Linked DNA regions of Homo sapiens: region 2 is linked to region 1. The links come from fine-mapping of genetic effects on gene expression. Tissue or cell type: whole blood. Region 1 holds a variant in brackets; the other region holds the start of a gene. All regions are shown on one strand. Distances are between the middles of the regions.

Evidence for each region. PIP is the estimated chance that this variant, and not a neighbour inherited with it, causes the effect.
Region 2: MAP4 starts here. The variant in region 1 is fine-mapped to the expression of MAP4 in whole blood (TOPMed, PIP above 0.99).

The regions. Positions count from the first base shown.
Region 1 is chr3:48,369,280-48,371,962 of GRCh38, forward strand. No RefSeq gene overlaps it. Among named protein-coding and RNA genes, the nearest start is that of FBXW12, 1.6 kb to the right of the region's middle. The variant G/C (reference allele first, on the strand shown) is at 1,585.
Region 2 is chr3:48,015,253-48,017,935 of GRCh38, forward strand. MAP4 (microtubule associated protein 4) reads right to left here and starts at 1,164. Exons shown (of 21, transcript NM_001385682.1): 1 at 1,082-1,164.

The DNA of each region.
Region 1 (2,683 bases):
TTGGTGTTTCCCTCTGTCACCATTTTAAAAAAATGTATCTTCTGTGTTCTTTCCTATTTAGTCAGCATTCTCTTTACTTCATTTCTTTGAACACATTTTGTATTTTTTTTTTTTTTTTTTGAGACAGGGTCTTATTCTGTTGCCAGGCTGGAGTGCAGCCTCCACCTCCTGGGCTCAAGCAATTCTCATGCTTCAGCCTCCTGAGTGGCTGGGACTACAGGACCATGTTTTATTCAGTTGTTTAGCATTTTAAACTCAAGGCTAAAAATATATCCACTTTCATTCTTCTCCTAATCATTCCAAGTTTTCCCAATTCCCTCTTCTCTTTGAGCCATTAGAGCATAACAGCTAAGAGCACTGGCTCTGGGGCTGACTGCTGGGGTTCAAACCCGGTGCCATTTCCCAGGGGTGTCACTGTGGGCAAGTCACCTAACCTCTGTATGTGTTGGCTCCCACCTATGTGTTCTAAAACTGGTGCCTGGGATTGGTTTTAATCAGGTGTGGCAAAGCGTGCAGACACAGCAATGATTGTCATGAAGGAAGAAGTTTATACTCACAGATCCCTATAAACAAGAGGCCTGGCTCCCCACGCAGGGCCACATGGAGAGCACCAAGGGCAGTCAGGAGGCAGAAGGGGCGGGGCAGCATAGGCCTGAGCCTTTATTGTGTTTTCTGTAAGAAACGAAGAGGGCAGAACAGGGTAAGCCTTTTAGAATGGGCTAGTTTAAATGGTTCTGGCTGGCTTTGAGGCATAGGGGCCGTCTCCAGTTGTCTGGTACCTGGCCCTGGGTTGATTTAGGGCAGGAGGAATATTAACTTGCTGTGTGAGAGTTTGGTAAAGGAGATGATTGTGGGTGTGGGCTGTAGCTTGGTTCGTTTGCATAAAAGGCACTCTCCTTTGCTATCTGGCTAGGCCTGGGAAGGAGAGTCTCTCCCCAGTCAGCAAGATCACAAATGCCAGAGCATCAAGAATACAGAAAATTAAAAATATACAGAGAATACAACTGGCCCTGTGATGGATGCCAGACAAATTCAGAATCTAAGAGAACACGGAGCACCCTGGCAAGGTGGCCAGTAATAGGACTTACCTCATCTAGCCGTTGTGAGGATTAAATAGATGAGCCCCTGTAAATTGTTTAGACGGGTGCCTTGCCTGCAGAAGGCGCCATGAAAGGTGTGCTGTTACTTCTCCCCTTGCTACGCCCCCTTTACTTCCCATGCTGTGTCGTCCCTCCCTCTCTGTCCTACTCTCAGGCTGCCCAACTCCTTATGGATCCCTCTTCTCAGGTTTCCCCAGCTGCCTGCTTTAATCTACTTTCTCCTAGACAATGTCCGGACCATTCTCTCACCTGCATCTTATCTTTTGCTTAGACTATTACGCAGTTACCATTTCACATCTCTCAAATTTTACATCTCTTAACTCTTGTGACATTTAGATTTGTCTTCATCTATTGTTGCAATGTGTCTTTCTCTGCCGCTTTTCTGGTAGCACCCCGCCACCACCACCCCCCAACACACCTTCCTGTTCCTCTATTTTTTTTGTTGTTGTTGTTGAGATGGAGTCTCGCACTGTCGCCCAGGCTG[G/C]AGTGCAGTAGCGCAATCTCAGCTCACTGCAACCTCCACCTCCCAGCTTCAAGCAATTCTCCTGCCTCAGCCTCCCAAGTAGCTGGGATTACAGGCACCCGCCACCACGCCCAGCTAATTTGTTGTATTTTTAGTAGAGACAGGGTTTCACTATGTTGGCCAAGCTGGTCTCAAACTCCTGACCTGGTGATCCACCCGCCTCGGCCTCCCCAAGTGCTGGGATTACGGGCATGAGCCACTGTGCCTGGCCTCTGTTCCTCTATTTCAAATTCATTCATTCACTCATTCGGCAATTTGCTTCAGTTTCCTTATGTTTGCCTCTTTCTCATCTGTCCTCTTTTCCATTTTATTCCTACTCTGTCTCAGTCCACTTACAGTTATATTTCCTATCTGTGTATTTTATAATATTTGTGCTTTAATACTTTTAAAATATCCTTTATTTTACTGTTTCTTCTCTTCCCTTGTCATATTTTAAAGTGTTTTATTTCTCAGCCTTCTATATCTTTGCATTAATTCTGTTCCTCTACAATAGAGTCCGTTCCAAGCTTTCTGTCTTCCTGTGTCCTTCCACGGCTCTGGCTCTCTCTGCATTATTTCCTATTTATGGAATACAAATCTTTTACCCTTGTATTTTTCTCACTCCTCTCCACACACCCCTTGACTCGCCTTTCCCCACGCCCCTCTAGGTGCTTCTTGGTCTTTGCTTTTCCTTTTTATTTCCTCACCATGTCAATTTGTATTTTTCCTCTCTCTTACTACTGTATCATAAATGGGACTCCCGACAACCACTCCCGTGTGTCTGCCTGGAGGCAGCAGTTTTAAGAAGGGTTGGCCACTGAGCCTCACAGAGGGACCCCTGTCTTATGCTGCAGCAAAGTACCATAGACTGGGTGGCTTACAAACAAATTTATTTCTCACAATTTTGGAGGAGAGAAGTCCAAGAGTCACCTGTCAGCACGGTCAGGTTCTGGTGTGGGCCTTCTTCCAGGTTGCAGCTGACACCTTCTCATGTCCTCGCATGATATGAACAGGGCTAGAGAGCGTTCTGGGGTCTCTTTTATAAGGTCACTGGTCCCATCATAAGGACTCTGCCTGTGAC
Region 2 (2,683 bases), 350 kb before region 1:
TATAACTGATAGCCTGTCCTTTTTGGGTGGGTGGGGGCGGGGGCGGTTATGGACAAGACAAGGAACCATAAAGATATCTGGGTTAATGTTTTCTTTTATACGTTTGTTTTTGCATGACATTTAAATGACAGAGAATTCTAAAGCCAACACTAAGCTGCTATCCTAGGACATTAGTGAGAATGCTGTGGCCAAAATATAGTGCTCATTCCTCAGGCTTGAAAGGAACCCCACGTCGCCAGTGTGGGAGATCATTTATAATCTTGATGGATACAGGTATAGCCTGCTTCATAATAATTTAATATTCAACATCAGATTTTTTTTTAGTATGCCTAGCAGGTTTTTAGTTACTAATTAACTTTATTACCCAGATTTGTTTCTTACTGAACTTCTTTCAGAGGCCTGTTATACATCAAGCTGAACTTTGTCTGGCAGCTGTGCTGTTTTTAATTTATTTAACCACAAAACCTTGATTTATACTTTCAAGCAAAATGATATTTTACTTAAAAATAAATCTTTAGCAAGGATGTCTACAGGAATCAACTACCAACTTACACAGTTCACAGACACATATGATTCCTCAGACAAATCTGAATTTCTCCTGCTTCTCCTCCAAACCAGACTTGCAGATAGCAACAGACAACTGAGGAAGATCTTGACTATCCTGAGCAATAAACTACAACCCCCCTGAAGAATATATTAACTGTCCACCCCTAGGTTCCTCCCTACACAGTTCAAGGACAACAGCTGTGCTATTACAAACTGATGGAATTTCCAGGCTTGACAGGGTTCTGTTCGTAACCACCATTTGTCCTGTTCATCATAGGATTAGCAACAGCAGAGAGCCCTTGATTACTAGAATAGCTGAGGCCATCACACAGCTACATTCCTACATGAAAGAACACACTGATATAGGTTTAAAGAAGTTATATTTTACTTTCATGTAGTTACCAGAGTCCCCCCCACCCCCCATTTAAGGGAGCCCTGTTCTCTGGATATAAAAATACTGTATACACTTGCACACACATACTCACATACATAAAACCTTGCATCACAAAGTTAAAAGGCTACCTTGCTTACTTACAGGAACTATCCAGGCAGCTTGTGTTCAGTCCTGACTAAATGCATTTTGGATCAGGCACCTGCCTTCAACATTTCTGTCCAAATGAATTTCAATCTATTTCTCCAGGAAGAACACACCAGATACCTCCCACTGTTAGCCATGTGATACAGGCAGCATGATGTCTGAAGTCTGGTTACGGTTATGTAGGCCAAAATAAGAAATGACAATGACACAGCACTTACATTTCTGATATCACCAACCTTAAGAATGAATCTTCCATTTTATCTAAATTTTTTAAATGAGTAAAACTTTAAAAGATTCTTAATACCTAACCCCTCAAAATTTTGAAAAAGGAGCATTTTTTTTAAACTTTACATTTATCCCACTTCCTTCCTCTAACACAGGAAAACATTCAGAGTTAATCTATACCAATCCAAAAATTATTTCTAACCACATTCTAAAGGCATTTTTTTTTTTTTTGAGACAGGGTCTTGGCCTGTTGCCCAGGCTGGAGAATGCAGTGGCATGATCTCAGCTCACTACAACCTCCGCCTCCTGGGTTCAAGTGATTCTCCTAACTCAGCCTCCTGAGTAGCTGCGATTGCAGGCATGCACACCACCATGCCTGGCTAATTTTTGTATCTTCAGTAGAGACGAGGTTTCATCATGTTGGCCAGACTGGTCTCAAACTCCTGGCCTCAAGTGATCCACCCATCTTGGCCTCCCAAAGTGCTGGGATTACAGGCATGAGCCACCATGCCTGGCTCTAAAGGCTTACACCAGTTGAACTGATCTAGGATCCAATCCCCTCACTTTAATAGATGGAAAAAAAAATGAGAAATGGAAAAAACAAGTCACTTACAAATGAGGCTGAGACAAAGGATCGGCGAAAAGAGCCACAGAACACCAAAAACAGAAGCAGAGCGTGACAAAATAAGCAAAACCTTACAGTTTTGTAGTTTCTGCTTTTATCTAACACAATGACTTCGCTGTACTTCATATACCTTTTGAATTATACCTGCTTATACATACCTTTACCTACCTACTACTTATACCTACCTATCTTTTCTTCTGCAAGGAGGGAGGCAGGCAGGAAGAATCCTGAACATCAGGAAAACATTCCACCTGATCTTTAAAGGGACCCCAATGCCTAGATGTCTTTTTCTTTTTTCTTTTTTTTTTTTTTTGTAAATCCAAACTCTTACGTGTAATATCAAGGCTGACTGACAAGACTCAGTCCTATCACCCACCATAATCATCAGCAGCTTTCCATGTAGGGTCTCCCTACAATTTAGTCACATGGGACCATCTACCATCTTACATTATCACTGTACACCCTATGCTCATTTGCTCTCCAAACTTGAAGTTATCTTCTCTCCCTCCTCATTTGTGAAAGTCTTGAAATCAAGGTCCACATAAATTGTCTTACCACCTTTTCTGTGACTGCTTTTTAGAATCTTTCTCCCAGTAGTATTCAGAACTAATACATCATCTGTACTTGTAACAGTAGAGTCTGATCTATACTGTAGTTCAGTGGTCCCCAAACCTTTTGGCACCAGGGACAGGTTTCGTGGAAAACAATTTTTCCACAGATAGCAGGAGGGGTGAGAGGGAGGAGATGGT